Homo sapiens: one gene and its partner. The protein of the gene in region 1 interacts with the protein of each later gene in a pairwise test. Each region holds a gene or a part of one and is shown on either strand. Other genes may lie near its edges.

Region 1 (5,203 bases):
TTTACCCATATGCACTTCAAATTCAACATCTTCAAAATCAAAATCATTCTTCTTCTTTTTTTTTTTTTTTTGGAGATGGAGTCTCACTCTGTTGCCCAGGCTGGAGTGCAATGGCGCGATCTTGGTTCACTGCAACTTCCGCCTCTCAGGTTCAAGCGATTCTCCTGCCTCAACCTCCCAAGTAGATGGGGTTTCACTGTGTTGCCCAGGCTGGTCTCAAACTCCTGAGCTCAGGCAATCCACCAGCCTCGGCCTCCCAAAGTGCTAGGATTACGGGCGTGAGCCACCGTGCCCGGCCCAAACTCATTCTTAATATCTCCCCAATCTCCTTTTCTTATGTCCACGAATAGGTTTAAATCCTTACCATCAATCCCAGACACCCCAATGCCTCCCTATCTTCTAGAAACGCCTTTCCTCCATCCTCACTTCTGTGCTTTACAACAGAACCCTGGCCTCTCTGACATGGATAGGCAGAGCCGCTTCCTGAATGCTCTTTATATTTGGTCTCTTTCTCCTGTACAGGTTTTTTTCTGCATTGCTTCAAGACTAATCTAAGATAAAAATCTACTCTCAAACATCGTAGCCATTAGGGAACTGCAAATTAAAACCACAATCAGATACCAGGCACATCTATAGGAATGGCTAAAATAAACATTATAACATTGAGTACTGGCAACAATGTGGAAAAACTGGATCATTGCTGGTGGGAATGTAAAATGGCACAGACACTCTGGGAAAGAGTACTGCAGTTTCTTACAAACTAAATATGCACTTACCATATGACCCAGCAAGCGCAGTCCTGGGCATTAATCCAGAGAAATAAAAGCTTATGTTCACACAAAATCCTGTAACTGAAGGTTCAGAGCACCTTTATGTATAATTGCCATTAACTGGAAATGACCCATATGTCCTTTAACAAATGAATGGTTAAAGAAGCTATGGTACATCTATAACACGGAATGCTACTCAGCAATACAAAGGAAAGAACTATTGATGCACACAACAAAATTAGATGGCTATCAAGGGAGTTCAGCTGAGTGAAAAAAGCAATCTCGAAAGGTTATATACTATATGATTCAATGTATATAGCATTCTTAAAATGACAAAATTACAGAAATGGAGAAAAGATTAGCAGTTGCCAGAGACTGGGGTTGAGGGGACATGACTGTGGCTATAAAAGGGTAACGAGAGATCCTTGTGATGGAACCTTTGCATCCTGACTGTGGAAGCGGTCACACAAATTTACACCTTTAAAAAATGCATAGAACACAACACACACACACACACACACACACACACACACAAATGAGTGCATATAAAACTGGTGAAATCCTAAAGTCAATGGATTGTATCAATGTCAATCATTATCCTGTTGTGATACTGGACTATAGTTATGCAAGATGTTACCACTGGGGGAAACTGGATGAAGAATATATAGGATCTCTATATTATTTTTTATAATTGCATGTAAATCTACAGTTAGCTCAAAATAAAAAGGTTTTTTTTTTTAATCTCATTAACTTCCAATAGTTCCCTAATGCCCACAGTGAAATATTTCTTAGCATGGCATGCAGAATTTCACCCGACCTATAATCTCTTTACACATCCTATGCCCTGAACAACTAGTTCTAAGAGCTAACATTTATTGAGCACTGGCCATGTGCCAGGTACCATTTTAAATATTTTATATGTATTATCTCATTTACTCCTCAGTGATCCCATGAGTCAGGTACTACTGTCAACCCCATTTTATATACAAATGACGTAAGTAGCTTATCCAAAGTCCCAATATGTCACACGCTCTTTCCATACCTTTGGGTCTGTACTTGTACCGCCTAAAAAGCCTCCCCACCTAATCACCCTTTAAGGCCCTGCCCCAATGTTACCTTCTGACTTTTTCCAGACTTAACTGTTACACTAAATGTGTCTAGCACTCAGATGTAATGGATAGATGTTTAATCAACATAAGGTCTAGACAAAAGGACATGAGGAAGTTATAAAACTGGCACCACGAGAAGCATTTGACACTGATTACATTAAGCCTGTTTCTCTGAAGTTAAACCTGAATGGAAAAGCATTCTATAATACACAGTAGGGTACAGAAAAGACTCATTAGCAAGAAAATGTTCATTAATAAAGCAATGGCTTTAACACAACCAAAGAGGGAAAGGTAGTATCAGGCTAAGGAAAGGCCAGTGTCAGCTGCAAAGTCCATTATCTTTCTCAAATTTTCACATAACAAATACACCAACAAAAACCTCAACTTCCTAAACCTAGTCCATTCTGCCTTATTAGGTACTTTTGTAAGAAAAGGTATAATGCTTTTTTTCCTCAGGAAAAAGAATATTTTCTCGAGGTAAAAACGCATCTTCATTATTTCCCTTGGAGGAAATTAGATTATTATCTAAAGACTGCTTAACTTATGAATTCGCTTGAAAAACATACTGATAATCCCACAACTATCTAGAATTGTTCTGAAATCTGAGTCTCTCCAAAGGATTCACATTTTATTTTATTTTTTATTTTTTTGGAGACGGAGTCTCACTCTGTTGCCCAGGCTGGAGTGCAGTGGCGTGATCTTGGCTCACTGCAACCTCTGCCTCCTGGATTCAAGCAATTCTCCTGCCTCCCTCCTGAGTAGCTGGGAGTACAGGTGCCCACCACCACACCTCACTAATTTTTGTATTTTTAGCAGAGACAGGGTTTCACCGTGTTGGCCAGGCTGGTCTCAAACTCCTGACCTCAAGTGACCCACCCACCTCAACCTCCCAAAGTGCTGGGATTACAAGCATGAGCCACTGTGCCTGGCCAGGTTCACATTTTAAACACACATGACAGAAAGTAGAAGAAAACACCAATTTTGTTTAGGTACATGAATGAAGCTTAATTGGCTTTATATTCCCTGTCATTGACCCCATGACCCCCTCCCCCTCAATAAGTTGTCTTCTGTTAAGTATAGCCTTTTCAGAAGGCACCAACATAGAATAAAAGTGAAAAAGAGGAGAATGCTCAGAACAGACCGGGTGAGAGGGTGACAGCCAGCCTCTCTTCCACTTATTGAGTGCTTACTATGGACCAGAGACTTATCAATAACCATAAATTCTTAACAGTAACCTAAAGCCAATAAAGAAAAACACATTTTTTTTTGAGACTGAGTCTCGCTCTATCGCCCAGGCTGGAGTGCAGTGGCATGATCCCAGCTCACTGCAACCTCCGCCTCTTGGGTTCAAGCGATTCTCGTGCCTCAGCCTCGCAAGTATCTGGGATTATAGGCGCCCGCCACCACGCCTGGCTAATTTTTGTACTTTTAGTAGAGACAGGTTTTCACCATGTTGGTCAGGCTGGTCTCGAACTCCTGACCTCAGATGATCCACCCGCCTCAGCCTCCCAAAGTGCTGGGTTTATAGGCGTGAGCCACCGCGCCCGGCCAAAAAATAAGTTTCTAAATTACCCATTATACGAAAAAAGATGTGTTTTAGTACAACAAGCAGGTAAGAGACTCTTAGGAAAGGAAACTGACCGGTCGAGTTCTCCTGAACTTGGAATCTTCACGGTCTCTGTGCGTCCCAGAAGTGCTGGTTCTCTCCCTCACACTTCTATACCCAGGACTGGGGATGATATACTCTTTTCCTATGTCGATATCCTTCATCTTCTCTGAGTGGAGGTTCCAGGGCTCACAGACTGTTAGTTTCACATCAGAATTCCTGAAATTAAAAATTCATCAAGAAATAGATTATTTCCTAAACAGTACTTAACCATAAGCTCAAGTGCCTTAAAAATAGGAAAAAAAAAAAAAAGGCAAAAGTACTAAAGCTTTCTACTGTTATAGCTACAAAAATTAATTTTCAAAAAAAGTTCAAAGATTTTGATTTCATTTTTTTAAAGAAAAAGATTCAGTATAAGAGAATCAAGAAAAATTACCTTCTCCCAACTCTAAGGGAAAAAAAATTAGAAACAGTAAACACACTAGTAAAGAGACACCCATTCTCTTCAACTAAGCTCAAATCCAGTGTATACAATAGAAAGGTTGGTTTTTTTTTTAAAGACTTTCTAGAAACAATTTCAGTTTGTCCCAAGTATTAAAAACTCCACAATTTTAAAGTGGACATCATTTCTTCTACTAAATTTTACTAAATAAAAACTTACCAAACACTTATTCTACCAATGATATATTCCATCTCTGCCTTTTTATAATTAACTAATGGGTTAGCTGGTGTTATTTTAAAGCTCCATGAAGTTATCCAGTTAAAACAATGTTATAACTTAACTTCAAACACAAATTCCCTGGGTACTGAAAATGTTCTAAAACTAGATAGTGGTAATGGTTGCACAATGCAGTGAATACATTGAAAAAAAACACACTGAATTTATACTTTAAAAGAGTGAATTTCATGTCATATAAATCCTATGGCAACAAAGCTGTTAGTAAAAAACAATAACAAAAACAAATTCTCCACCCTGTATTACTAAGTCTTACCTAGTTTTTACCTGAAACTCTATTCTAAACCACTGCTTGCCTGGCTAAGTCTAATCAATATGCTGTATCAACTCAGGTCACTTAAAAACAAAAAACACATACATACTTCTCCAAAATGTTTCCCCCCTCTAAGAAGGGTCACAGCCTCCCAGAGACAAGCTGAGAAAACACCTTTCATACTAGCCTCCAACGGAAATTAAAGACGTGTAGCCGTGTCGCCTTCTGGATTCCATAAATCCCTGGCTATCGCTGTGACTTAAAACTACTACTTCTGCAGCACAAAATTCTAACCATTATAATGCAATTTTTAAAGTGTCAGATAAAAAGAGAACACTTACTAATCCTCTGAATAAAAAGGACTAAATCTCCTATGCAAAGACAGGTTTCCAGTCCAAAGAAAGCTTGATTTCTTGCCTTTCAGAATTCTGGTTCAAGTACCCTAAGTTGATATAGCTGTTACTTATCTTTAAAAAAAAAAAAAAAGTCACCTTGTCCAATGACAAACTACACCATAAAGAACAGCGGCTCACCAAGCCAGAGTGCAGCAATCACGTCATTGAGACCTCATTAAGGCTAAACTATAAACAGACCTGGCATCTGCCAGTGTCCCCAGTGTTGAGCTGTAGCTGTAGATCAGAGTAACCTTCTTACGGGAATCACGAAATTCTAACCTTCCCCTTCAAGGGTTCCCTAGCTTAGCTGATTATCTGGAAGAGGAAAAGATTA
Region 2 (5,203 bases), on another chromosome or scaffold:
TTGATTGTGTACTGGAGAATCTGATACCTAGTCATGGAATTCACTGAACCGGCTAATGTTTTCGTGGCCGAGAGCAACATTAAGTCACTTGATACCTCAAGTGGCTTTATGCCGTCTACTGGGTTAAAAACACAAACTATGAAATCAGACTGCTGGGATTCAGATTCTAAGCTCTGCCACCCTGTAGTGCGTTATTTAAGCACTCTGTATCTTCATTTCTGCAACTGTATATTAGAGATCATAATAATATGCCTACCTCATCGTTGTTATTAAGAACTAATTCTTATTTAAAGCCCATAGAATAGGGCTTTATAGAATGATAGACATGTTCTATATCTGCATTGTCGAATTATCCATTAACCATTTGTGATTATGGGCTCTTGAAATGTGACTAATGCAACCAAGGAAATTACTTTTAACTTAATTAAATGTAAAAAGTCACATATGGCTAGTGGCTACTGTATTGGACAGCATAGTGTAGAACACTGTCTGGTATACAGTAAATATTATTCAGTGTTTGTTATTCTATTGTCTTGACAAAGATCTGCAAACTCAGTGTGGCAAATACTAGACCAAGAAGAATATGATCACTGTCTAAGAATTCCTTTAAGGCATTAAGGTACCATTTCAAGGGCAGGTTTAATTTTTTGTTTTACTTTTGACAGGAGGTAGGTGGCACTGGCAAACACACAAATGAGAAGTTAACATGTTTCCTGAAGAAGTGGGTAGTTGGGCTAAAAATGTACTTAAAAAAGGCATCTTCCTATTTACCACAAAGAATTGTGAGGAGAAAAGGATATAAAACTTACCTCCACTCAATGTCCCATGAGGATCAAACACATCACCTCCGAGAGTTACAGTTCTAGTCATTATCCTCTTATCAAAGGCCACTTTTTTGGCATTATCCATATTGTCACAAACAAATGTTGTTCCAAAGACAAACTCCATTGCTTTCTGAAGTTCTGGTTTATATTCAACCAAGGAAAGAGCCACATGAACGTTGTCAGGGCCAACCTGTGGGACAACAACAGATATGCCACAGTACATACTACTACTTTTCCTTTCAGATATGATTTTATAAACCAGTAAAAACTGCTGTAATAGAAACTTAAATAATACTTACCTAGCATTAAAACTCTTTCTGAATTTTCTAAAAAGCTATGTAAAACTCAAAGTTTCAGGAAAAAAAAACTGCAGGTTTAAATACTGAAAGATTTATTGCTAAGTAAAATATTTATTAATAGCTAGTATGGAGCATTATGAAAGTTTCTATCAATAAGGAGCCATTACCATGTTTCTAAGTGTCCTTCACCAACGTTGACTGGACACAACTTTAATTATAGTACAGATTGAGTATCCTTTATCCTAAATGCTTAGAACAGAAGTGTTTGTTTTCAGATTTTGGTATATTTGTATTACAGTGGTTGAACTTTCTAAATCCAAAATACTCCAATGAGCATTTTTTGGGTGTCATAGTTTTGAATTTTGGAAAATTTCAGTTGTTGGACTTGGAGTGCTTAACCTATAATTTCCAGATCAACACAACTATATGAAAATGTTGTTTCAATAATCAGGAATTTGATTTCACAACAAATATTTTCTCATACAAATGAAACATGCTAGAGCAGTCGTCTGCCAGTTACAGAAATGAAAACACAATAACTGAGAGTAAAAGTAATTTAAAAAATCCCCAGTCCTCTATTTTGATCACAATGCTTCTTCTCAGCCTTTGTTTATAGAGGCTACCTCTGCCCATCATTTAAGAAAAACTAAGCATCTCTTTTAGAGCTTAGTATCAGCAGTGGCAGTCACAATGAAGGAAGCTCTATGTAACACATGTTCAGTATTGTTCTTTGATGTGGCAGCTACCATCAAATAGGTTTGGCTAAAGGATTTGAGGCAAAGTATTTTTGCTGTTACTTGAAATCCCAATTTCCTTCTAATGCTGGGACTCGATGTATGGCTGAATTAACTTCCTGAGCCTTCTTGACTTAATGGTGAGTTTTCAAGTAAAGAAAGTACCAACCAAAAACATCACCTTTCAATTACTCAGCACTCATCCTCCCTCTCCTGATAGTATACATATCAACACAACTGTATTTTGAAATCATTTGCATTGAAATCTTCTGAATGTAACTAAGGATACAACAACATCCACTTAGTTACAAGTATATTTTTAAGTTTCATAGAAATGTCTTTTCAACTGATGTACTTGGAATGTCTGATCAATAAAAAAACTGATATTACAGCTGAATGTTATGACTGACTTCATGTTTTTACAGTATTACACAACTACAATAACTTTTAAATGTATTTCCTTGTACTAATCTATTTTCTTACTAGCAAGCATGTCACTTTAGATCAACGTCAGCAGTTGAATGGGATCCTGGTCACCTGCTATGTACCTGCACAGGCTGAATAGCAATCTAGAAGAACTCTAATAAAGAAGCATCACTGCAATACTAATGAAGGCCTTCCATAATGGCTGTGACTGTGGGCAGTTTTAGTATGCCTGACATAAAAAGAAACAAAAACAAAAACTTGAAGAATTTGGGGTACGTATCTAGAAGCTCAGTTCTAACCATTCAGGAATCAAGAGTGTAATTTTCACCATCACCTGATTGATAGTCATGTGACTTAAGGTTAAAAAGGACATTCTAATACCACAAAGTGAAGCATCAAAAGGAGTTCAAGTCTTCCAACATCTCTATTCTCTTATCATCTAATTGCACAAGCCAACCCAATTTTTTTGTATTTTAATTTTGTGGTTCTGCATATGATTATGTCCCTCAAAATTAATGTCTTCTAACTTAAAAAAACCACAGATGACGATTAAACATATAAATAAGACAAAATGAGACTTACAAGATTCTGAGCAACTCTCAGAGTTTCTGGTGCAATACATCTGGCTGAAATTTTATTGAGTGGAATTATAGTGTATCGACGTTTCAGTTCCCCCCTTTCTAGTAGCTTTTTACCAGTAACCTACAACACACATTTGAATTTAAAAAACGCATGTTAAAAATGACAGAAAATTGAGAGAATGCAAGTTTAGTAGTCTATAATAAATGAATGTTTAGTGCCATTTATCCCAATCAAGTTATAATTACATATGCAATGGAACATCATTTGAACTTGAAAAAGGAGATGCTGCCATTTGGGACAACATGAATAAACCCAGAGGACATGATGCTAAGTGACATAATCAGACGAAGAAAAAATAAAAAACTGTATGACCTCACTTGTACATGGAATCTTTTAAAAAAAAAAGCTGAACAAATAAAAAGAGTAGGATAGTGGTTATCAGGGATGAGGAGTGAAAGAAAATGGGTAGAAGTAGGTCATAGGTCAAAGGGTACATATTTGCAGTTGGGTAGGATAAATAAATCTACCTATTCAGAGATGTAATGTATAGCATGAGGACTATAATTAATACTATATACTGAAAATTTGCTAAGAGTAAATTTTAGGTGCTGTCACACACAAAAAAGGTAACTATGGAAGGTGAATGGCTATGTTAATATGTCTGACTACAATAATCATTTCACTATGTATATGTATCAAAACATCTTGTACGTTTGTTTTTTTCTTTTTTTTTTTGAGATACAGTCTTCCTCTGTTGCCCAGGCAGGAGCGCAGTGGTGCAATCTCAGCTTACCGCAGCTTACCGCAACCTCCACTTCCCAAGTTCAAGCAATTCTTGTGCCTCAGCCTCCAGAGTCGCTAGGACTCCAGGCGCACGCCACTACGCCTGGGTAACTTTTGTATTTTCAGTAGAGATGGGGTTTTGCCACGTTGCTGAGGCTGGTCTCGAGCTCCTGGGCTCAAATGATCTGCCCACCTCAGCCTCCCAAAGTGCTGGGATTACAGGTGTGAGCCACCATACCCAGGCTTCTTGTACATTTTAAATATATATATAAAATAAATTAAAAAAAAAACAAGGAAGTAAATTTGACAATGACTACGTAGCATTTACAGGAAAGAATATGAGCATTCTACAGAAGGATAATAAGTGAGAACTGAAGAAATGTAAATAAATTCAATGTTACCTTGATGGGAAGACTGACATCAAAAACAGGTCATTTATTCCCAGATTATTTTACAAATTAAATTCAACTTATACAGCAAAGAGATCCCAAAAGTTTAAGATTGGTAATATGCATTCTGAGTTTCTGAGTAAGCATGAGACCTCCTTTGGAATAGTTATCAAAAAGTTATGAACCAAATAGTTTTACCCTATAAATAAGTCACCTTAGGGGAGAGCCTTAAAACATCAAAGTATTTAATTCTTTTAGCAGCACATGACTTTTCAAGCTAACCAAATTTTAAATTTTTTAAAATTAAAATCAACTTACTTCTGTGTCTACTACAACATTGTAGAGTCGTTCTCCAGCCACTAATTCTAAAGCTGTGGTTGCAGAAGTGTCTTTCACACTAATCAGAGAAGCCACAAGTCCTTTCACACAATTTCTATTCCAGTTCTTCTCTGGATCCCTGAAATACAAAAGTTGACAAAAATTAATCTTAGATAATAAAGTAGAAAAAGTTATACTTTACTCATCAGGAGCTCTTTTGGACAACACATTAAAGTGAAATGAAAGTAGAATCAGCAAAATGGTTTTAACAAACCAAAAATTTTAAAATGTCCCAAATGACTAGCCAGCTGTTGTTTTTAAATCACAATAGATCTTTCAGTATGTTTCAATGTAGTAAGAACAACTCTGATGTTCTAATCCCTATAATACATATGATTACTGTAAATATTCCATAAAAAACCCACATAGCAAAACAAATTATAAGATGTAAATGTGGATATTTAACATTAATGATACAGTAACTCTGAAGACATTTTGAACTGAGATTAAATTTCCCTCATTTTAAGATTAGTGGCATCATTAGCCATTAAATTTCACAAGAATTTCCCTGCCAACATTTAAAACATTTCAACAAATGTTTAAAGGAAAAATACCAATGAAAGAAAAGCAGCTTACAACAAGTTTCATACAAAAATCTTGGTTTCGACAAAATTTTCACACTGCTTCCAGCTTAAATAAAAATGTCTTGATTATTACTATGTTAAAATTCAAGGCTTAAGTCTCTTACTTGTATGCAAATCGAAGATTGGGAAATCTGGCTAATAGAGCTTCATATGTTTCTTTCAATCTACCAATATCACGAGACAGCTGCCTGCGCTTTTCCAAAA

Evidence for each region. Proteins that work in one complex are often made in the same cells at the same time.
Region 2: the proteins of ABCC5 (region 1) and SMC2 interact in a two-hybrid assay, tested with the Homo sapiens proteins (one large-scale study listed by BioGRID and IntAct).

The regions. Positions count from the first base shown.
Region 1 is NC_000003.12:184,010,744-184,015,946, forward strand, and holds part of ABCC5 (ATP-binding cassette sub-family C member 5), read right to left. Parts: exon of another isoform or gene 4,816-5,203; intron 3,705-4,815; 5' UTR 3,650-3,704; coding exon 3,521-3,649; intron 677-3,520; exon of another isoform or gene 523-676; intron 1-522. UniProt on the Homo sapiens protein: ATP-dependent transporter of the ATP-binding cassette (ABC) family that actively extrudes physiological compounds, and xenobiotics from cells.
Region 2 is NC_000009.12:104,113,982-104,119,184, reverse strand, and holds part of SMC2 (structural maintenance of chromosomes protein 2), read right to left. Parts: coding exon 5,104-5,203; intron 4,495-5,103; coding exon 4,356-4,494; intron 2,986-4,355; coding exon 2,866-2,985; intron 1,015-2,865; coding exon 810-1,014; intron 1-809. UniProt on the Homo sapiens protein: Central component of the condensin complex, a complex required for conversion of interphase chromatin into mitotic-like condense chromosomes.